Linked DNA regions of Homo sapiens: all the other regions are linked to region 1. Evidence: fine-mapped expression QTL. A gene starts in region 1. Each other region holds a variant in brackets. All regions are shown on one strand. Distances are between the middles of the regions. Region 1 holds the start of TRPC6 (transient receptor potential cation channel subfamily C member 6). Region 2 has its middle 140 kb from the start of TRPC6. Region 3 overlaps TRPC6 (transient receptor potential cation channel subfamily C member 6).

Evidence for each region.
Region 2: its variant is fine-mapped to the expression of TRPC6 in unexposed skin (GTEx, PIP above 0.99). The same link has a PIP of 0.9 or more in sun-exposed skin.
Region 3: its variant is fine-mapped to the expression of TRPC6 in blood mononuclear cells (TOPMed, PIP 0.97).

Annotation. Positions count from the first base shown.
Region 1 is chr11:101,579,245-101,587,588 of GRCh38, reverse strand. TRPC6 (transient receptor potential cation channel subfamily C member 6) reads left to right here and starts at 3,582. Exons shown (of 13, transcript NM_004621.6): 1 at 3,582-4,255. The coding sequence starts at 4,086.
Region 2 is chr11:101,715,350-101,723,693 of GRCh38, reverse strand. No RefSeq gene overlaps it. Among named protein-coding and RNA genes, the nearest start is that of TRPC6, 140 kb to the right of the region's middle. The variant C/T (reference allele first, on the strand shown) is at 3,502.
Region 3 is chr11:101,548,275-101,556,618 of GRCh38, reverse strand. The region is part of intron 1 of TRPC6 (transient receptor potential cation channel subfamily C member 6); the gene reads left to right. Among named protein-coding and RNA genes, the nearest start is that of TRPC6, 32 kb to the left of the region's middle. The variant T/C (reference allele first, on the strand shown) is at 3,573.

The DNA.
Region 1 (8,344 bases):
TACTCAAACTGGAGTTTGCAGGGCACTTTCATTCATAGAGAATCAGCAGCCCCTCTGAAGCTTCTGAAGTGTTTCTGTTTTCACCCGGTTGATTCTACATGTGATAGGAGTCAGGGCTCAGGGTTTCCATGCTTTAAAATATCCAGATGAAATCACGACTAAACTTTTATCTGTACTTCTGGCCAACCAACCCCAAACTGCATTTTCCAGAGAGACTCCTATGTTAGTGGTTTTCCATCAGCAACAGCAACTCACAAACTGCAGCTTTGTGTAACTTTTGAGCTTCTTGAGTTATTAAGCATTTAATGTTTTCTCAACCTTTTGCTTCTAGTGGCAATTTCTTTTCCTTTCCCTTTGGGCTCCTTGCCTGAGACTTCCTAGAGCAGCGGTTCCCAACCCCCAGGCTATGGACTGCTATCCATCTGTGGCCTATTAGGATCTGGGCCACACAGCAGGAGGTGAGCAGTGGGCAAGCCAGCGAAGCTTCACCTGTATTTAGTATTTACAGCTTTTTCCCATCACTTGCGTTACCGCCTGAGCTTTGCCTCCTGTGAGATCAGCGGAGGCATGAGATTCTCCTAGGAGCATGAACCCTATTGTGAACTGTGCATGTGAGCAATCTAGGTTGTGTGCTCCTTGTAAGAATCTAATGCCTGATGATCTGTCACTGTCTCCCATCACCCCCAGATGGGACCATCTAGTTGCAGGAAAACAAGCTCAGGGATCCTATCAAGTCTACATTATGGTAAGTTGTATAATTATTTCATTATATATAAAACAATGTAATTATAATAGAAATAAAGTGCACAATAAATTTAATGTACTTAAATAGTCTCCAAACCATCCATCCCACCCCACAGGTCCGTGGAAAAATTGTCTTCCACGAAACTAGTCCCTGGTGCCAAAAAAGTTGGGGACCACTGTTCTAGAGGACAACCATTTTTCTTTACTCATTTTTCTCCTATCAGCTTTTCAAAACACTGTGTTATATATATATTATATGTATAATATATATACACATTATATATATTACACACATGTATATATGTAAAATATCTGTTTTTGTAAAATCAAACTAATAATCAAACAGTGCAGATATATATAATGAGGCAAAGGTCCTCTCTCATTAACATCTCTTCCTCTGCCCACAGAGACACATAACTCACCTTCATCCTCACATCTCAGAATTAATGACTGAGTGTTTTTTTATTTCAATAGCATGAACATACTACATAAACATACATAACCTATAATTGCATAGCAATTTCCAACTCTGTGAGAACTATCAGTCCTGTGCTCACCCAACAATTTTTTAACTTTAAAAACTATTGTTTCTTTGTTCACTCAGCTTTCTTCATGACTCCAGATCTACTCAATACTTCCATAGTTGATTCAAAAATTATATTATTTAATCGTATTTTGTCTTTTTAAAAATTGGTTTCACCATGTTTTTAATGTAAAGTGATAAAACTGCATAGATAACTATATAATGTGGGAAGTTAGAGATTGAGGCGTAATTGTATACCAGCTTACTGATGAAAAAACTGAGGCAGAGAGAGATTTAATGACCTCTCTGAAATCATGTAACTTCAGTTAGGGAAGTGGCCGAAATAAAAATCCAGGCTTTGAGACTTCTGATCTAATGATTCCACTTCATCATGTCATAAGCTCTTTCAGAATCTTCTAACATTTGTACACCACCTTATTCCTTCTGGGTACTCAATAAATGACTGGGCTTGTTGTTCTAGTACTCACAATAATTCAAAAAAAAAAAAAAAAACAGAGGAAAACATGTCTTACCACATGATAAATTGATGTCAGAATAAGTTTACTGTAGTAATTTTTTCAGTGTGAAGGTTGTTACCTGTGAATGAAAAACAGTGTAACAACAGCAAAATAAATTCTGTCTCAGTTTTTGTTTTTTTTCTTTTTATGTGAAAGGTTAACACTTCAACTGACACTACAAATGTTTATTAATTTGGCTTTAACTCACAGAATTTGAATTGGGTAGAAAACCTTTGAATATTACTTTTCCCATGAATGTTTTCCCCATACTTGGTGTTGCCAAAGAGATTACCTTGGCACTGTTTAACTAAACGTTTATTGATTAATTCATTCAAGCATCAAAGCTAATGAATACTTACAGATAGCAGTTGCCACAAACAAATTTTAGGAAGAATATCTTATTGCTAGGTATAGTAACTAGAAAATTATAAGAATTTTAAATCATGGCTCCACATGTTGAAAGATCAAAAAGGAAGGCTGTTAAATCAGAAAGAACAGACTTCAGAATGATGCAGGTTGTTTGTTTCCCCAGGGAAAATGTTCTTTCCAGGGCCAAGAGCATTTTCTTATTTTTTCTATATTCCTTCCATCCATCCATCCATCCATCCGTCCATCCATCCATCCATCCACCCACCCACCCACTCACCCACCCAAGCATGCATGCATGCACCCTACACACCTGTGTCAAATACGAAGCTGGATCCTCAGGACACAGTGGTTTCTGCTCTCTCTGAGTTTCAGTTCTAAATTTAAAGGCAAACTCAGAAGTTTCTAAATGTGTGAGCTCTTTTCCCTTCTATCAAATCAATTGCATTTTCCCACACTTCCAACATTCATTTTGTTGTCCACCTGTTCATGGGAAGCAAAGGCACCTTTGCAGACAGATTTCAGTCTGGCTTTCTTTCATCCAATTGCAATGGGCCTCTGATCTTTTCATGGCTGGCTGCTTGCCATGCATGTCTCAACTTAACGAGCACCTCCTTGGAGGGGCCTCTTTTAACCATCTCATCTGAAGTAGTCATTCACCAGCTGCCATCACATCAACCTGTTTTATTTTCATTGTAGCATTTGTCCTTGATATTTTTTCATTTGCTTATTTAATTGGTCCCCCTTTCTGCCACGAAAGCTCTATGAGGGCAGACAGGTGCCTCATCTGCTTCTTTGCCTCCGAATTCTGAAATGATTTGAAACGCAGTTGGCATTCATTAAATATTTGTTGACTTAATGAATGGATTCTTAATTGGCTACTACTGCTTAAAGGTCTACAAATACTGATTCATCCTTGTTGACAAGTTTTTACTTCTCACACGTATGCATATTAATCAGAATTTAAAACTAAGTCTTAAAAATAAAACAGCTTGGAAACGTGGGAAACATCTGGCAGAGAAATCATTCTTGCATTCGCAGTGACGGAAGGAAAATTTTTTCTCTGAAGTAAGCAGGTTGTTGGCCTCTTTATCGGTATCATTGGAAAATGCTTGCCTATTTTTGTTGGTTTTCTCAGGAACTGGGAACATCTGGCGTTTGGAACATAGAACGTTGTTCATTTTTAAAGCAGAGTCATAATAACTTTATGAGTTGAGGGTAAGAGAGAAAATGACCAAAGAAAATGAAGGCAGTCTGGAGAAAGAAGAGGCTCGTGTCCCTTTTAAGGAACAGGTTTCCTTGGCTCTTTGAGAGTGGTTCTTAAAGGAAGCTTCCTACGAAGTCCGCAGTTGGTATCCTTACTAAATGAGCCAACTAAATAGTGGAGGGGAAAAAAAGAGTGCGTGCCTGGCTCCTCCTAGTTCAGGCTCATACCGCCTCCTGAAAGTTGTGGCTACAGGACAGGCTTTGGCTGCTTTCTAGAACGTCGCTCGGATCCCTTTAAAGGTGGGGATCTTGACGGAGAGTGCGGGGGATGAAGGCGGGAGCTGAGGGCTGGAGAGTCTCTGTTGACATAGTAACTCTTCAGCTCCGTCTCCCTTGCTCTCCGCTCTTACGCTTCGCTACCACCAGCGGCCCCGCCTGTGCCCTCTCTGCCCGGGCGCCCCAGACGCATCCTCGCGGGGTCTCCTCGGCCTGACCTGCTCAGGTCAAGATCCTCTTTGCACCCCCTTAAGTGGTGACTTTTCCCCGGGCCAGTGGGCGAGCCACTTGCGGCGGGCGTCTGCACCCCCTGCTTCACCGTCGTCCCCTGGGCACCGGTCTGCCCAGGTCCAGTTCGGCCGCTGACGCGAACCCTCCGCACCGGGTCCCCGCTGGAACTGCCCACTCGGCTCCCCCGGGAGCGGGGCCCAGGCCAGTCGGGCGTTCCCGCCATGAGCCAGAGCCCGGCGTTCGGGCCCCGGAGGGGCAGTTCTCCCCGGGGCGCTGCCGGAGCCGCTGCGCGGCGCAACGAGAGCCAGGACTATCTGCTCATGGACTCGGAGCTGGGAGAAGACGGCTGCCCGCAAGCCCCGCTGCCTTGCTACGGCTACTACCCCTGCTTGTGAGTGCCGGCGACGCGGGGCGGATCGGGCGCGGGCTGCGCGGAGGGAGGTTGTGCGCTCGCAGGAGTGGCCGAGTCCGTCCGCGCGCGTCCTGAACCCGCGTGTGTACCTCCTAGGACGGTGCTGGGAGGTCCGCGAGAGCCAGGGCTGGGACCTGAGTGAGTGGAGGGGCGCGCGGGGAGTGGGGGAGGCGGGGTTGTCTAGGTTTGCTCCTCGTAGGTACGCATGGATATGTTTGCCCACGAGAGTGAGACCGCATAGTAACACCACCATTGCAGGTGATTAGATGGGTGGTCGATTTCTCCAGACCCCTTCATCCTGCGCTCTACAAGAGACAGGATCGCTACGTAACAGGCGGGATCTGAACAGGGGGCTGATTCAGATGTGCGCCCGGGTGACTCTTAGCCTATGTGGGGGAGAGATGACTAGAACTCCAAGGGTTGGAGCTGCCTGGGTGCTGGGTGCGCCCGGCGGTCTCCACGCTTGGCTTAGCGTTTCGGGCTGAGCGCTGAGGTCCTTGGACCGTGGGACAGCCAAAGTTAGACCAGGACCTCTCCCCGGTCCTGGGGCCTTGGAGTGAAGACAGAAATAGAACCAATAGGACTCTCCACCGGCGGCGCGAACCTTTTCACCCGGGGCGTCTGGGGAGACGAGCCTGTTAGGGGCTGGGAGACTCACGGGCTATAGAAGTGAGGGCGTCGGGTCGTTTGTATTGGGCTGTGGGTAACTGCAAGCTTTTGTTTATGAATCTAGGGTATTTTTTTTTTTAGCTGGGTGGGTGGCGGGAGGGGAGGTAGGGAGTAAGCAGAGTGGACTCCAGAAGAAAAGACTCCGCTTCCCCGACACCGCTGTGACCACATGTGCAGCGGGCAGATAGCATTTCTGTCCCATTGCCCCTTTGGGTGATTGGGTAGTCAAGTTTCCTGACTTGTCACATCCACCCGCAAGCGGTTTCCCGAGGTTCTCAGCTCTATAAACAGCTTTAGTTGGAGGGAGGATTCCACCCCATAGGCGCCTGGCAGACCCTCCTGATAGATGGGTGCTGTGTCAGGGCTGCCCAGCCTCAAGCCCTGCTGCGGTGCCCTTTCGAAGTAAGAGGTGAGCCGCAGTAAAGGGAGCATCTAACTTTTCTCAAAGATAAAGGAGAATAGTTAGAACTGGTTTCATTCATCTGTGTGCTGTGCAAGTTAAGAGCATTTACAATTATGTATATGTTTTTCTTTTTAAAAGTTCAAGACATAATTCCCATACCACGTAATTCCCCCATTTAACTTGTACAATGCACTATTTTTAATATATCCATAAAGTTGTACAGCCACCACTAATATCTAATTCCAGGACAATTTCATCATCCCTCAAAGAAATCTTACACTTGATGTGTTAAATTAGAAGATATTTTTATGTCTCATAGTACAGACTTTTCCAACTTTAATGGCTAGCATGCAAATCATGTGGAAATCTTGTTAGAATGCAGATTTTGAGAAGGCAGGTCTTAGGTACAGCCCAAGATTCTCCATTTCTGACATCCCTCAGATGATGACAAGGTTGCTAGTCCGTGGACCACCCTCTGAATAGCAAGGTGATATATGACAAGAAAAAACAAGAATAGAAAGAAAAATAAATAAATCTTGGATATTCTGAAATGCTGCTATTTTAAAATGTACTTTGAAGGTGTAAGTTTAAGACATAGATGGAATTTTTATTGGTTAAACTTGAGATCTCCGATGTCTGAGGGTTATAGGTTTGGCAACATTACCTCCTGGCTAAACTAGGTGACTAAAAATTTATACGGCTTTTTAAAAATTAGACTGTTCCATGAACAAAACCTTTTTTCATTCTGTAATCCATATAATCACTTGTCGCTGTGTCTGTCAAAAAATGATTTGATTAAAAACCTTGTGGTTATATATCAGTAGTGAGAGAGACTAAATAAAGTAATAATTCCAAGTTGTCCTGAAAACTCTTCCCAGTGCTTTCTTCAAATGTGGCTTACTGCCTAATTTGTCTAATTATTGTTATTACATTTTTTAGCTACAAGTTCTCACTATGTTACCCAGGCTGTCCTCAACATGCAGTATTTAGTGAATATTCCCTTAGTTCAAGAATCCTGGACTATTCTTAATAAATAGAACTGAGCAGCAGAGTGATGAACAGAAATATTTTAATGTGCTTCAATTCATAACATCCACCCTCTGCGTGATGTCAGAGGTACTATAATACATGTAAGAGTGAGCCATGCTCTAGAATTTGGGTTTGGTTTTATATGAATCTATTATTTCCAAAAGGTTCTATAGTTACATTTCATCCACTGTTTTCTCTGACAAGATTTTAAGTTTTTCTAGTTGAATAATCAACTAACAGAAAAATTTTAACCAAGAAACAAAAGTACTTCACACCTATGATGTATGAGAAAGAGCTAAAGAAAATTACTCCCTCTGGTAGAGTAGAAATCAACTCTTCCATATGCTTTTGACTTGTGATTTATACAATTTCATAGTGGGAGGTGTATCATTTCTGAAAGTGGCAATCACTAGTACATTTTAGATATGAATATTGCCATTTCTCAAATCATTGAGATTTTCCCTTATAAGATCCCAAGTCTTTGTAAGTTGTCATTTCTGTGGAATAAATTCTATGACTCTTGCCAAAAATTTCTGTTTCATAGTTTTCTTATTTAGAAAAATTTTTTACATATATTTATGGGGCTTCAGTAGTAATGGGGCTTCAGTAGTAATGGGGCTTCAGTTTTTATTTATATTTATGGGGCTTCAGTTTTCAGTAGTAAAACTGAAAATTATGGTAAATTATCTTATTTGTGAGCAATTATGTGCAATAAGGCCTTAATAGTTAAATAAGGCCTTAATAGTTAAAATAGTAATAAATTGAAATGGTGTTCAGAAGAAAATGGCTCAGATTTTCTCTTTATTCAACTTTCAATAGCAAATCAATTAATATTCTCTATTGTGATCAATTTGTAATGGTGATTAGCAAGAAAGGCCCATGTCCTGCCAAGGTCCCAGGAGGCATTTCAGATTTCCTTTATTTAGAACTTTAAAGGTATGTTTACAGTTCATCACTGCTGAACTTGGGGAAGAATCCCAGACATTTAAAAAAGTTAAGCATTTCTAAAATCTCAGGATCTGAAAACACAGTCCAACTAAACTTTCTGCTTGGGAAGGAGTAATTGATTGATTATGAATAATGAAACAGTAAACTGTAAACTAAAGCACTGGCAATTCAGCTGACTGAGACAATCTGAAAAATTTATGGTTACAGACACCTGGCAGTACTGGATAAAAGATTTTAAATGATTTTAAAACATCTCCCAATTTTGTGAAAAATAAAAGGGTAATCTACCATGTGCTAAGAACAAAGACATTAAAAGCGAGTATAGATTGTGAAGTGATGATGTGGTTGCCCTGTGAGTTATGCGTCCCAGTGACGAAGAAGCCTGGAATCTGATGTCCATATGAGACAGAAAGAAGGTAAACTCTTGGTGCCAGATGAGGCAGAGAGCTGGAACTGAGATACCCCTGTGCCCTGCATAAAGCCATTAAATAAAAATGTAGGCTAGAAATATATGCCCACCAGCATACAGTGAGAACAGGAAACTTTAACAGTAAGAAGAAAAGAACACTCCCCTTGAGAATATCGTTTTTGGGGTTTTTGTTTTTATACCCTACCTAACTAGCCTAGAAATAGTCAACATGGAAAATACTCCTGAGGTTCCTATAAGAGTAAAACACAAAATCATTATGAAAGACTAGTATCAAGCATCTAGATTGCCTAGGCTTTTCAAGAAGAAAGCAAGTCCTGCTAAAGATATGCTTGCTATAATGAATAACAAAACACACAAGGAAACAATCGACCAAGAGTGAGAGTCAGTGGACCATGGACTCAATCGACCATGAGTGAGTAGATATAAGACATGCAGTAGTTAGTGGATTTTTTAAAAAGTTGAGATAATACAACCACATGAAAAAGAATCTTTAAAAGTACATATAAATGTTGACAATATAAAAGAATAAATCAAACCTTAAGAAAAAAATGACATTTTTAAAGAAAAGGACAAATAGAACATCTATAAG
Region 2 (8,344 bases), 140 kb before region 1:
AATAAGGCACAAGTAAGACATGTTATGTGGTGATACCAAGCTTACTTCAGTGGTCCTTGGTGTTGGCATGGGTTGGTGGGCAAGTCATTGGCTGTCAGTTGTCTGTAGAATTTAGTCACTAAGTCAACAAATATGACTACAATGATTGTGGAGTTAGTTATCCGGTGCCCTAGTTTTATTAGTGTCAGTGTATACATCACCATTTGTGGTTTCTCTACTCCCTAATGATGTCTTAGAAAATTATTTATTTATTGGATATTCCTTATATCACTCAATTTGAATGTGCATATATTTATACTGGCTGGGTCCCTATATAGTAGGAGAGACTATATCTGTCATTAGGTGACAGAGTAAATAATGATCTTTCATAAAAACATCCATGTGAGAGCTGCCTTAGTCCCTTCAGGCTGCTATAATGAAGTACCACAGATTGAGGGGCTTATAAACAATAGAAATGTATTACTCACAGTCCTGGAGGGTGGAAGAGATCGGAGTGCCAGCACAGCAGAATTTGGTGAGGGTCTTCTTCTGGATTGCAGACTGCTCTCTTCTGTTCATGTCCTCACATGGTAGAAAAAGAGTATGAGAATTCTCTGGGGTGCTTCTTATAAGGGTACTAATCCCATTCATGAGGGTTCCATGCTCATGGCCTAATCACCTCCCAAAGGCTCCCCTTGCTAATACTATCACATTGGGAGTTAAGATTTCATATGAGTTGTGGAGGAACACAAACATGCAGTCCATTGCAAGAGCAATATATTTTCAAATATGTTTCTTTAAAGGTATTCTTATCTAGCTGCTGTAAAAATAGAAACTCGAAAATGCTCTCTGTCCAAAGTAATAATGTCTATGCTTAAGTCTCATAATAATTCTCATCACTTTTTGATATTGATTTGATCTTTGCATCTTAATAAGACCCTTATTAGCTTTTCAAATATATATGAAAGGTGTATATCATGTCATACTATTTCAATTTTTAATATTTAATTTTTCACTGTTTGAATGAAAACTTAATAGTATCAAATGGCAAACAAAATATTTTTAAATAGTTTCCTTTAAAAAGCCATCATCTTCTCTGTTTAGGATGGAACATTCAAACTCTTCTTCATTGTTATTGCATAGTTTCGGAGATAACTCTTAATTGTATTAATAGCACTGAACAGCACTCAGTGATTTGTGGAGCTTTCTACCAAGATACTTGGTGACCAAATGTGGCCAAAGAACAATATGATGAATTTCTAAAGAACTTAGTGCTACTTTAAAAAAGTTGACTATACATGCACATTGCTAAATGTTGATGACATTCCAAGGTTTTCTAATGTAAAGGCATTAGAAAAAGATTTTTTTCTCTGAAGCAATTATAGTGGTTTCAAGCATCTAATTTTTGATGACTCTTTTGTATTCATTTCCAGTAATTTTGAAAATAGCATTATCTCAGTAACTTCTTCATTTCACTGGAAAGAATCAACATATGTGTATAGTAAGACTGTTATTCCACAGAACATGTTCATCCTATTGAAATGAAAACTCAGTTGATTGCAACTCATTTTCAGTTGCTTTTGGCAACTTTTACCAAATCATTTATTTTTCTTGAAATTTCACCATTGTTCAATGGCATAGAAAAGATAATTTATTGAAATTTTTTCATTATTGCACTAATCTCTTTTGAAGCTGGTATGACAAGTTTTTATACAAAATCATATGATTTAACACATTTTGTAATCACTTGAATTATTTTTCAGAGACTTCTCACATCCATTGCACCTGATCACTAAAAACCAATAGTGTCTTTCCAACCTTTGTGACATGCAGAAACACTCGTACATGTTTCCAAAATGCCCCCCACTAGGAGGAAGCATCATTCCCTTGAAAAGTCACTGGGCTACAGTAACATTAAGCCAACATTTTCAAGGTCATTAAGAAAGATTAATTTGGAGTTATTGAAATAAATTATTCCATGAGGTTGCAAATTTATTCCAATAGAAAAGATTTTAAGGTATCTTGCATTCTTATAATCTCACTCCTAATTAGTGAACACAGCACCTTCACAAACCGCTCTGAGAAAAAAATCAGTTTCTAACTAATTTTTCTGAGGACTAAGGGCCCAGTAACTTCAAAGGCAGTCCATCCACTCTTAATGAATCATACCTTTAGAAAGTCCTTTCATAGAGCGAACATGTGCCTGCCTGCCTGCAGCGCCCAGTGAAGAACGAGGGAACTGAATTAATGTGGAGTGCTTCCTAGCACTATTTGTTTTCCTGTCTGGAACATGGCCTGTTCTGTTGACCCGATTTGGGTTATGATTCATGTTATAGAGAGTCAGACAAATAAGTGTTTCTATCCAAACAGCTTCTTTCAGATCTGAGCTCCTGTCTCCTTTTTCTTTAGGTGAAGTTCAAATCTGATGTCTTGTCCCTCCCTCACATGTGAAACTGCGGAACTTTTCTCCAACTGAATAGGTATTACATTTTCCAGGGCAAGAGTCGACAGCGGGGGCCTGTATTTCAAGCTGCTCTTTCTTCTTTCACCTTCTAAAGGTCATATTCTCCAAGCCTCCCTCTTCCCCAGCCCTGACTCCTCCACATGTAGGACTTCACTAGCCACCAGAGCACTGATGACTCTTGAGTCAATATCCCCAGCTCTGGCCCCTCTTTTTTGCTCAATATCTGTTTATCTTCTGTTCACCTGAGTAACCGAGGTAATATATGTTCAAAACCTAGCTCTCTTCTACCTTGCCGAATTATCCCACCACTCGTTCCATCACCCAAAACAAAAACCTGCAAATTGTGAGTCATCTTGAACTCACAATCCATATTCATTTAATTGGTAAATGCTATCAGGAATCTCTCATAGTTGTTCAGTGTTCTTCAGCATCAATCTCAGTGCCTTAATAATAATGGTTCTCAGCAAATGAGAGCTGTGGTTTGCCAGGAACTGTGCTAGACTTCTCACATACATTCTTATTTAGTCTTCTTAAAACACTGAAGGAAAGTAATATCATTCTAATGCTACCTAGGAATAAACTAAGGCTCAATTAAGTAAAATAATTCTCCCAAGGTCATATAGCTGTTATCCGATGAAACCAGGATTGAAACTTACGTCACACTTTCACCAAATCCCATATTTTCAACTTTCTCATCAATTTCTTTCATGAGAATTCTTGAAAGTATTCTCTTGGTTTTCCTGCTTCCACGTGTTTTTCTTCTAATCTCACTTCTACATGGCTGCCAAAGTAATCTTTCTCAAATACAAATTCAATTGTGTGACTCCTATCCTTACAAATCCTTCCGTGTCTCTGCCTTTCTTGTATTTCAAGATAAAACCCAGACTCCTGGGCTTAGCCCACAAGATAATTCATGAGGTGGCCTCTGTCTACCTCTCTAGCTTCATTGTCTGCCATTTCATCAAGGACAGTCACACTTCCCTCTAGTCACAGAAGCAACTTTTAGTTCTCCAAATACAACATGCTGTTTCATAATTTAATACCTTCTCATGTGCTTT[C/T]TGGTCTACCTGGGTGCACTCAACCCACATTCTCTGCCAGGCCAATGTCTTCAAGGCTTGCTCATGTTACCTTCTTTTTTTTTTTTTTTTTTTTTTTGAGACGGAGTCTCGCTCTGTCGCCCAGGCTGGAGTGCAGTGGCGGGATCTCGGCTCACTGCAAGCTCCGCCTCCCGGGTTCACGCCATTCTCCTGCCTCAGCCTCCCAAGTAGCTGGGACTACAGGCGCCCGCCACTACGCCCGGCTAATTTTTTTTTTTGTATTTTTAGTAGAGACGGGGTTTCACCGTTTTTTAGCCGGGATGGTCTCGATCTCCTGACCTCGTGATCCGCCCGCCTCGGCCTCCCGAAGTGCTGGGATTACAGGCGTGAGCCACCGCGCCCGGCCCATGTTACCTTCTTTAAGAAGTCTTCCTTGATAATTATGTCTTTTATTTAGACAATTTCATTTTCATCTGTGATGCCTTGTGCATGCTTCCATTTTAGGGACTTCTTTTTTTCACGTGTACTTTCCCAAAAGCAAACCCCTGAGACAAGGATTCAAGTATAAGTAGTTTATTTGGGATGTGCGTGGAACACTGGCAGGGAGAGGGGCAGTGACACAAGGAAGAGAAATCAGACACAAAAGGGTGTATGATTAACCACAGTGGGACAGTTGATCTTAAATCCTACCAGAAAACTTTTAGGAATTGGCATGAAACACGCAACTCAGAATTAAACTACCCAAGGTGGGAGGGAGCTGAAATATTTATATACCAGCACTTGTGTATAAATTAAGAGTGTCTGGAAGGTGCTGCTTCTCAGATTTGAGGGGATTACTGTTCTTTGGGCAGAGCAGACTTGTGTGGGTCAGAGTAAAGCAATCAGGCCCAGAGATGCAGATTATGCCTAGGGGTTAGGGTTAGGCAGCTGTAAGTCACCTGAAGCATGTCCAAAGGGTATGGACTACATAGTGACTGGTCTACATGGTAGACTTTACTATGGTCCTTTGTTTACTTGTCTGCATTCCCAACTAGACTGTAATGAGACTATAATGAGAGCAAGTACCTTATAATGAGAGCAAGTACTTTCCCCGTAGCTAGGACGGTTGCTGCCACAGGGTAGGTTACTCCCTAAAAGATGGTGGGATAAAAGACTGAATAATATGAGGCCTGTCAGAAGCGCAAGTAGGTACAGGAGTCCCAGGTGCAGAGGGGTAGTAGACTGAAGTCTTTCCCTGGAGGTTACGTTGGGGAACATCTTCAACATTTGAAGGTGTTTCTTGGTGGCTTAGCTATTGGATTTCCTCCTTAGTTTTGGAGACTTAATAAAATCATGTCCTAAAATAGTTGCAACATGAATTCACTTATTCATGTATCCACAAATATTTATTAGCTGTTACCATGTACCAGGTACAGTACAAGGATCTAGCATGAACTTTTTCAAAATTTTGTGTCCACTGAGCAGAGTTCTTCTTGTTTGTGATATTTGTGAAATATGTGAAATTCTATGTGTAAGTATTTGAGTGTGTGTTTGCATTTTTATGCATGTCATGTTCTTTCGCTATTATGACTCATCTACTGAAGACGTTAAATGGAAATTTTGCCTCACAATAGCAATACATCACAAGTGTTTTGCAAAACCCTTTCATGAGTACAACTACATTAGACTGTTGCAACGATCCTGTGAGATAGAAAGAACAGACAATATGTCTGTACTGTATACGTGAGGAGTGAAGTTCAGGGACTGTAAATCACTTGCTCATGGTTATTCATATAGTAATTAGCAACCTTGGCTCTAAATTTTCAGAGTCCAAATTTAGTTCCACTATGCTTTATTAGTTTGAGCTTTGTACAGAAGGCTTTTATTACTCACTTAACATTAACTCATAAATAGGTACATATATGACTAAGAAATGAACACTTTTATTGTCTAATTATTACTGGTAATAATCTCCAACCACTTAAAGATTATAATTTAGCTTATATCCTGAAGTCCATCCTCTGATGCAAGTTTGTACAGCAGTGGCACAGAACAGTGTCCACATCTATTTGCATGTTCAGGAAACGCTCTTTATTGTCTATCTCCTGCCTACCTTTCTGACTTATTTCCTATTATTTTTTCCTAAAACACATTAGACTTTAAACACATTAGACAGTTTCCCAAACACAGGATACAATTTCATTTCATTCTGCTTTAGCTCATCTTCTTTCCTCAGGCTGGAATGATTTTGGCCTAATTAATGAATCCAAGAATAAACAAACTCTAAAGTCCCCTCTCTTCAGCAGCTTTCCCTGACTGGTCTAGGCAGGATGAATTGCTTGCTCCCTCATCTGTATTCCCACAATGCATTTTGTTGGGAATGTGTCACAACTTTCATCGCATTGTCTTATAGTCATTCATGTGTTTGTCTTCCTAGTTACACACAATTTCTTGAGGGCAAACACCATGTCCTATTCATCTTTGCATTCTTAGTGTTTTGCTTTGTCCCTAGCATGGCATGGTGCTTCAATAATGTCTGTCAAATAAACTGATTATAAAAGGCATTGAGTATAAACTGCACTCATTATAAGTGTTAATGTACTTAAACTTGCCTTGGTATCTCTTACTTAATCTTGTTTAATGACATTGCTTCTGCCATGTATTTTGCCCTGGAAAACTGTGGTTTTGAGTCTCTATCTTTACAAATAGTGATTCTTAATTTATTATTGAGTTTTATTTGTAGTTAGATGATTAAAATTTAGATCATAAATTCATTTCAATTTTTTACTTTTATGACTGTGCTTAAAATGTATATCTTAAAGAATTTATTAGCTCACTGATATTTTTGAGAATCAACTCCATTGTCTTTAGGGAGAGCTTTCTTAACATCAATGTTTGATATTTTATAGATGTTTAGCATAATGATTTTTAATTCTTCTTCATATATCCCTACCATCTGACTGAATATAGAGTGGAAGGCTGTTTTCCTATGATTTTAGATTGTGAATTTTCTGAAAATAACTCCAATCATTACTTTCTAAAACATTATTTTTTTGTTTCATGGTTCAAATTTTATTAATGTTCTTTATATCAGTTCTCTTTTCATATTAAATTGAACAAATTGAAGTTGCTCTGAATGCCACAATAGTGAAATATAATTATCTCATAAAGTGCTTTGATTCTGTAGGCTAGAAACAGTGGACAGAAAGATAATCAGAGATAAACTGAACTATTATACCATTATTATACTTGTGAAACAGTGAATCAAGCTTTGTTGGGTTCAACCAGAAAAACACAAATCACCATTACACATTTAAACCAAGAGAATGGAATAAAGCATTAGTTACCCAGGTGTGTAACAAAGAAGTTATAAAAGATATATTGAAGCAACTCAGAAATTAGCAAAAGCAGGAGCTGCTATCACTGCTTGGCTGAAGAAGGATGTTTTGGAGGCCCAAGGACAGGGTTTGGCAGCCAGCACTGGAACCACTGCAGTCTAACTACTGGGAGCTGGAGCTACACAGTGGACACAGACTAAGTCAGAGGGGGAAGGCAACAAGTACCCTGGTTTCTTCTTTCCTTCCAACCTACAGTCTCCTGACAGTGCCTCCTAGTGCACAAACCCAGTTGGATGCCTGTAAAATAGGGCCTGAAGGGGTGACCTCTATGACGCAGAGTAGAAGAGAAGGGAGAGGAATGAATATGAGATCACATAGGCCACTACTGGCACCCATATTATTTATTATTTAGTGCCCGAATCTACACGCTCCTAACATCTTATGGGTCATTTAAGCTTGGGATATTCGGAAGACCTGTGATTGGCTGAGGTATTGGATTAGCTGGTTGCTATGTCTAGACAAAACATTATTAGACCATACTGCTTACAATGTTATACTGCTATTATGTACTTTAGCCCCATTTTCTAGTGGCCATTATGAGGTTGTAAATAATGCATCTTAAAAACAGTTTCATTGTGATATAATTCACATACTGTAAAATTCACTCTTTTTTTGTTTTTTGTTTTTTTTTTGAGTCAGAGTTTTACTCTTGTTGCCCAGGCTGGAGTCCAGTGGCGTGATCTCAGCTCACTGCAACCTCCACCTCCCGGGTTCAAGGAATTCTTCGGCCTCATCCTCCCCAGTAGCTGGAATTACAGGCATGTGCCACCACACCTGGCTAATTTTGTATTTTTAGTAAAGATGGGGTTTCACTATGTTGGCCAGGCTGGTCTCGAACTCCTGACCTCAGGTGATCCGCCTACCTCAGCCTCCCAAAGTGCTGGGATTACAGGTGTGAGCCACCACACCCAGCCAAAATTCACTCATTTAAAGTGCACAATTCATGTTTTGCACATTCACACATATGTGATATTATCACCACAGTCAATGTTTAGAATATTTTTATTACCTCATAAAGAAACCCCTTACTCTTTAGTTACTGCCCCTATGCTCCCCCATTGGCCCCACCTCCTAGTCCTAAGAAATATCTAATCTACTTTCTGTTGCTTTAGATTTCCCTGTTCTGGACTTTCATATGGATAAAATCATATAACATATAGTTTTTTCTAACTCTTTCACTTAGTGTAAGGTTTTTGAGGTTCATTCATGTTGTAGCATGTCTCAACATTTCATTCCTTTTTATGACTATACTACATTTTGTTATCAGTTTGTCAGTTGATAGAGGTTATTTCCATCTTTGGCTAGTATGAATAATGTTGCTATAAACATGTATAAACGTTTCTCTGTGGATATATGTTTTCATTTCTGTTGGGTATATTACCTAAGATACAACTGGCAGGTCATGTGGTAAGTCTGTGTTTAACTGTTTGAGAAACTGACTGTTTGCCTAAGTGTCTGTAACATTTCACATTCCATTAGTGGTGTGT
Region 3 (8,344 bases), 31 kb after region 1:
GTAGAATTCAGCTGTGAAGCCATCAGGCTTTTCTTTGATGAAAGACTTTTAATTATTGGTTATTTATTCAATCTCCTTACTTGTTATTGGTCTGTTCACATATTCTATTTCTTCATGATTCAGTCTTGGCGGGTTCTATGTATCTAGGAATTTATTTCTTCTAGGTTATCCAATTTGTTGGCATATAATTGTTTCTAGTAATCTCTCATGAGCTTTTGTATTTCTGTGGTATCAGTTTTAATGTCTCCTTTTTATTTCTGATTTTATTTGAATTATCTCTATTTTTTTTTCTTAGTGAGCCCAACTAAAGGTTTGTTGATTTTTTCTTTTCAAAAAACATACTCTTCATTTGTTGATCTTTTGGATTGTTTCCCTAGTCTCTATTTCATTTATTTCTGCTCTAATGTTTATTATTTGCTCCCTTCTGCTAACTATGGGCTTAGTTTATTTTTTCTGTTTCATTGAGGTATAATATTAGGTTGTTAATTTGAGATCTTTCTTCTTTTTTGAAATAGGTGTTTATTGCTATAAGCTTTGCTCTTAGAACTGCTTTTGCTGCATTCTGTAAGTTTTGGTATATTGTGTTTCCACTTTCATTTGCCTCAAGACATTTAAAAAATCCCCCTTTTAATCTTCCATTCACCCATTGGTTGCTCAGGAGCATGCTGTTCAATATCCGTGTATTGGCAAATTTTTCCAAAGTCCCCCTGTTACTGATTTCTGTAATTTCAGTCTTTTGAAATTTGCTGAGGTGTATTTCGTGCCCTAACAAGTGATCTGTCTTGAAGAATGTTTGTGTGCACTGTTCTTCAAGTTTTGTAAATAAATTTTATTTATATAAAATTCTCCACATTTTCTGTTCCTGACTACAGAAAAAAAATGACTAGTTCTCATAGAAATCTGGTACAGTCCACCATAAACACAAATATTCTTTGACATCTGTTTTACATTAAAAGTTTGCATTCTCTTACATAATGTTCCCATGTTCATCTAAAAATAAAGTTGTTTTTCTACCATCCTTTCTTCCAAAAAGATGAAATATGTTTATCCATAACTTCATATGTCCTTAGGTCACACTGCATGCTCAGGGGTATTCATACCAGGATGCGGAAAAGCAGATGACTCACATCGATAACTATGAGCAGAATATATCAGCTCAACCACTTACGAAGCTCAGGTCATGAGCAAATACATTGAGTACCCAGGACCCTTCCTAGACAGGAAAAGGAAGCCTTTTGGTGGTCGTTGTTAAATAATAGAAGTCCATTGCAGAATGGTGAAAGAGTAGGATGCCATGTGGCAAAGTTGAAAAGAAAGGTACAGCCTTTGGAACGGAAGAAATAATGTGGAGTCCTCGTATGTTCCATGACCCGTTGACACCAAGCCTAAAACATCCTGCCTTTGAATAATAGGTGAAGCCTGATTTCATCAAAAAGAGATTTAGTTGTATAATCATCTAGTGAATGTACACTTCACAAGAGGATGAGCTCCCAAAGCCTGAAACTCTCCTTCTCATGGCAGTGTCTCTTAGCCTACCACAGAGTGAGGGCTCAGTGACTATCAGACCGCAGTGTCATAGCACTGAAATTACCTAGGTAAGAAGAAAGAGCAAACACTAATGGAACCCAGAACAACTTTAACCCATGGAGTGGCATCTTTGTGGCCTGTTTTAAGACTCAGGCATAGAGAGCAAGACAAACTTAGAGAGGACAGAGAGGGAAGGGAGTCAAGCGGGTGATGTGCCTACACCCAGTGGGAGGACAAGCTAGGGCAAGGAAATAGGGCTGGGATTGATTAAGGGTGTTATTCAGCTTTGAAAGAAGATCAGCTGCTATCTTTCTTAGGCTGGAGTTTACAATAACTTTCATTAACTTTTAGTTAATAAAGAATTTTGTTGATTGGTTATTTTTCATCTTTGTTTTTTAAAATTTTTTCCTCACTTTTTGGGTGATGCAGGGAAAGAAATATAGTGAGGCTTATAACTTGATTCTTCCCATTGCCTGGCACTGGGCAACCACCACCTGAAACTGGCCAGGGCACTGAAGGATACTGTAGAGGTCAGTGTCTCACACTGAAACCAGGAAAACCCACCATATTCCCAATTTATATATATGTTTTATACATACATTCATGCAAACATGGGAAACATTAAGGATTCCAACATAATCAGGCCACTGTTTATTCTCTTAACAGGTTAATTTTTTTTTTTTACTATTGCTCTACTTTGAAATAAGCTTAGATGCCCAGTTAACATACCAAGCATAACATAAATGTAAACAAAAGTTTATATGCAAATCTAAAACTTTCTTTTGTTGTTCCAGCTTCTCTACTACTGGCCTCTTAATAAAAAGCAGAAGTGAAAAGGAACAATTTTCATTTTCAGTTCTTCCTATTGAAGAGACACAGTATAGAATATACTGTCTCACACATCCATTTCACTGAATATACTGGTCTGTCTGCCTGGAGCACTGATTTCTCCTTCCTCTTTATTTATAGAACCATTTTGCATCTGACCACGTGTTCTTTAAAAGTCACCGGCCAGTGAATTCAGCTTCAACTGATGCAGAGTCCAGTGTGTCTATTTCTGTATTTCCATGTGCATTGCACATACCTCTAGCATAGCATTTAAAGCATGTGTGAAATGTGTTCACATAAACATTTTCCCCACAGAACTATGAACACTTACAACGGCATCTAGTATAGAGCAGGGACTTAATTTTTTCTTTCAATTGTCTCATTTTCCTTTACATATACCCTATTACTGAGCTTGGTATCTGGGACACGATAAATCTTAAGAATCTTTTTGTGGAGAGAATGATGTATGAGTGCACTTACTCTTCTAAAAGTAGCTATGGGAGCCAAAAGAGATGTGAATAAAATAGAGGAGCTTATCCATACATGTGTGCTAGAATATATTATAATTCTTAGTGAATGTGATCCAGTGTATGCTAAGTTCTCAGTAGGTGAGCTGGTTGAGAGGGAGGAAAGCTGGAAACTATTAGAAACACAACCTGGGTGGATTCTAAAGTACTGATCAGCAATCTAGAGTATAATGTCCAAAGGCACGGGACTAACATTACTTGCTTTAAACTAACATTGGCATCCAAGAGGGGCTGATGCGATAGGTGAGGAACGCAATAGGAGTTAATAGGCCGGGAGATATTTGCATTTAGCCTATGGTTTCATCTCAATTATTCTTTTGTTTATCCAGTTTGAAATAGAATACCAGCTGTGATAAAGGTTCAGTGAGAGGGTTACAAAGCCTAGTCAGGAGGAAACAAAAGAAAAATTAAAAAAAAATAAGGCTGGTATCAGAGTAGGCAGAGATGGGATAGGTTACAGGAAAGAGTTAGCTTAGAACAGCATTTGGTTTCTGCAGTCAACTTCAGTGTTTCAATGGTAAACTTCACTGTCTAGAATTATTACATTTATCAGAGCTGGCTCAGGTTCACGATCTTGAATCAGATGAAGAAAGAGGGGACTGGCACTGATTCTTTGATTACATCACCTATCTTACTTCCCATTAATACTCTACCTCACCCTATCTTACTTCCCATTAATACTCTACTTCC[T/C]GAATTTCTGCAAACCCAGACTTTAAGGAAGCTTCTCTTTTCACATTAGCCAAATACCACATATTTCTCAGCCGTTATCTGATAAAAGAATAAACATTTATTGGTTATGATATTTTCACTTAATTTCTGCCACTTGAAACAGAAAAACCACACTGGATAAAGTTTGACAGTGTTTGTCACTATCATTTATATTTATGCCATATCATTTACTCATGTTATTCCAAACACTAACCAGAACCCAGAATTAGACCTGATCCTGAGCGGCTATAAGATGTATATTTAGTACCAATTGAAAAATAATAATGTAGGAATTATAGAGGAACTATGCAGAGTTTGAGACATTTATCATCTTAATTAGATGGAGAATTTTTTTTAATGGATAATCTAATAGCTAAGACTAAACTTCTTGTAGGATTTGTTGTTGGATCATAAACCAGTGTTCACTTTTTGATTTGGGCAACAAATAAACAAACCTAAACAGAAGAAAGATGTCTGAAGAGCAAAACTTGAACTTTCTGACTCACCTCCTTAGTTTGCCTTGTGTCAGAATGGATTGACTAAAGCTTTATTATTTGGTACAAATACTTTCTGGACCATTTTGTTTCTTGACATATAAACTGCTGAGACAGAAGGTGATGAAAATATTTAGAGCCAAGTAATTTTGGATGATTAGAAAAGCCAGCCTCATGTGGCTTTGTTATTATGTTTTCAAATATAGGCCACTGTGTGTTTCAAACATGGGTTACGTTGATTTCTCCTCTTCGTCATCTTTCTTGTTTCTTACAGCTAGAGGTGACCTGCTGCCCAGTGGAAAATGTGCAGTGAATGGCCCTGGCTTCACTTAACAAAAGAAAACTAAGTTTCTAAGTTCTGAAAATAACTTATAAAGGGTGCATCAAGTATATGATCTTATTGGTGTAAAGAACTGTGAAGGGTCTGAGATTTTTACTTGCAAACTTACAAGATGGCCCGCCATAGTTTCATGGATGCCGATAAAAGACACAAACCTCCTGGGCCAAAGTTGGACAACCTTTAATCATAGCAATAACAGGAGCTAGTGTATTCTTATTTTTGTATCAGTTCCCCAAGCCCCAGTTTCTACAAGGAGACACAAAAGGATGGGATGGTACCTGCACTAACAGTGAGTTGTGTTACAGAAAGGATCTCTGAGCTTAGAGAACCTAAATCTTTTGTAATGAGCAATAACCATGACAGCCCTGAGGCTCTGGTGGGAGACATTCTATCTTCCAATGCTGTTTGTTTGCTTTAGAGATGTCCTTGAAAATATAGTTTGGATCAAAGGGCAAACATTGCTTTGCACACAATATGTGTAGAAACTCTAGACCCATCTGTAAATAATTGAATTTTAGGAAAGTTTTTGAATCATTAATTGGCAGAGATAATTTGTTGGTGGGGGAGGGGGGAGTTGATTTAAACCTTGTTTAGAACTACAGAAAAAATGTGCAGCTTTATGACTGTATGAGAGAGTAATGAAAAGCAATTTCATGAAGCACTGGTGAATCAAGTTTTTTTTTCTAAAGAATGTTATTTCTTAGTAGAATAATTTGTATTAAGTTATTTTTTAAAAAGAGAAATTATGCCAACAAAGAAAATACTTTAAGTGGTCAAATCTGATGTATTTTTTGGCCTTCTTTTTGACAAACAGTTTATAAAAATATTTTGTTACTAAGATTGTCACTCCAGATTGGCCATCAATACTGTTTATTCTTTAATACTTTATGGTTGCAGTTAATAACTGCCAGTTCATAATATTCATTTAGTCCTTTGAATTCATTTAATAGTTTCACTGACTGTATTTAATGATTAAATGTTAAATACTCATTTCCAGGAAGTTTGAAATTGAACTATTTATTTATAGAAGGATGTTGACTTGAAGATATGCTCTTATATGGAGAAACTATTTTCTGATTCCTAAAGTACAGAAGCATTTTCTCTAAGCAAACTAGACTATGGATACTGACCACTTTGTCCTATGTACGTACGTATTTGTAGTCATATAGTTGCTCTTAATGAAAAGATTATTTTAATTTTGGTCATTGTAGCACCAAAATTAAATATTTCATTATTCAATCACATGGTTCAATTTACTTTAAATACCATGATCTAATAAACTATGGGAATCATCTTTTATATCACAATGATATTAGGTGAGCTCAATGAATGTATAGTTAAGCACATATATTATTTTTAAAATAAAAATGAAATATATAAATATGCAATATTTCAAAGTACTACATTTGATAAGAACACATTTTTCCAGTCCAGTGAGGTTATACCACATACTCTCCATGTTGTGTGTATTTTTTACTTAATCTGTTTGTGTTTTATAATGTATCAGACTACAAAGGCCTTAGGAAACATTTATATATAAAGAATAATATTGTTATTCAATTGCCCTTTATCCTTATTTATTAGTGCTTATGACAAATGTTACAGATTTTGCTGTTGAAATTATTTTTTCTTTAGTTCTGTTGCTTAAAAACACTACTGTGTGTTTTAAGGTTATGAAAATTATTATTATCAGTTGAACAAATATTTGCATAATAGCGTTAGCAGAAATAAAATTAAAATTAAGAAAAAAGTATCAATAAATCTGCACTCTAACAAATCAAATTATATTTCTCTCAGTTATGTTCTTATACCTATCCATATATATGCATGATTTTACATCCATAGCTTATATCCTTGCGTCTTTTTTAATTTAATGTAACATCATACTTGTGTTTTCATATGTGTAATATGTATTCTTCATAATAATTATGATAAAAGGCAGATAAAATTCTATCAAGGAACTTTTTGTTGAGGAATTAATTACATGATGATTTTGTAATTGTTGGGCATATGTAAGTTGATTCTAAATTTTTATTCTTATAATGTTGCAAAAAACATCTTAAAAAAATTTAGATTCTTTTTAGACTAAATTTTATCAGTAATAATTTCCAAAGCACAAAAACTGAATAGAATTATTTTCATGAGTCTTAGACTATAATTTCCAAAAAGACTGTTCCACTTTCTGTGTCATCAGAAAAAAGGGAGGTTATAATTTGGTATCAGTCTTGTATACTTTTGATATCATTCTTTATACTGCTAACTCAGTATGGAAAAAACAGTACCTCATATTGTTTTTAATTTGCACTTATTTGTCTATTCATTGACTAAATATTTTTCTAAGTATTGCTTTATTAATTATATTTTAAAAATTGTATTATATTTACATGAAATTTACCTATTTATCTATTAGGGCCATAATAGTTCTTTCTCAATTTTATTTTATTTTATTTATTTTTTGACATTTTTTCATTTGTGTTTTTATATTTTTATTATTTATTTTGAAATATTCCATTTTGCATACAAGTTTTCTTTTTTATCCCTTTTTTCTCTGTCAGTTTTTCTCTCAATTTTAAACATAACTCCTCTTTTCTCCCTTATTCAATATGTTTTTCTCTCTGCCACTTTTTATTGAAATGATTTTATCATAAACATTTAAATATTTCTTTTTATTATAGCCTCTTGTAACTCATCAAAGTTGGTAACTACCAGTATAAGATCTGATAAATGTTGACTTGCCTTTTTGCTATTTTCTTGGATTTGTTTTTATTTAGCTAGCTAAATAAAACATGTATAAATGTTTTATTCACATGTTTGTTTTGCTTTATGGCGTAATATGAGGTGTGGATATAAATAATTATTTTTCATATAGCTGACCATCCTCACATTGTTTCAATAACTATTTTTTAAATTTTATAATATATCCCTTTTTAAAATCAACCTAGTGAATAAGTTAGATGTATTTCTAGGTTTTGAGTTCTGTTCAACTTACAAAAGTGTTTGATTTTGTACTTCACTTGCTCTTAAATCACTTCAGGTGATTAAAGCAGGCATTTCTAATATTCAGCTCCTCCCATTAGTAGGCCTTTGTTCTGATCTGTACATCTCACAATCTTTTTAAAAATTGGATTGTCTTTAATTTTAAAAAGTGATATTTGAACATGAAACATCAAAAAAAAACAGAAGGATACAAAGGGAAAATGTCAGTCTCTCTGCATGAACCCTACCCTTGGTACTACCCCCAGAGTTACCCACTGACATTTCCTTGCACACTCTTTCAGAACTTGTCAATGCATATGTAACCGTATATATTTTTTGACAAAGCAAAATTATATGATATCTTCATACTCTTCTACACCATGATTTTTTTCACTCAATAGTATATGTATTTTGTAAAATCTTGCATTTTAGCAAATATAGATTTATTGCATTCTTTCTGAGAGCTGCACTATATTTCATTGTGTGGAAATGTTCTTAAAAGTTTTAAATAATCATTTCATCTCAGTTTTCTTTTTTATAAATAAGCATGATTGTTTACGGATGCAGCATCTCTTGAAGTGAGAATGGTACGAGCTTTGCTATCACAGAGAACTGGTGTCAATTAAAAAATAGAATTGGATTCTTACTTTGGTTAAATGGCTTGACACCTCTTTGGATAAGCTACTTAACCTCTTTCAACCTCACTTTCCTCATCTGTGAGAGACAGAGAGAGAGAGAGAGATATATATATATATATATATCAGTATATATAATTATGTATTATATATTTATATATTAAATATATTTTATATAATTATATATTATACATAATATATTTATATATTATAATTATAAGATATAATTATATAATTATATATTGTATTTCAATTATATATAATTATATATTATATTGTATTTCAATTATATATAATTATATATATAAA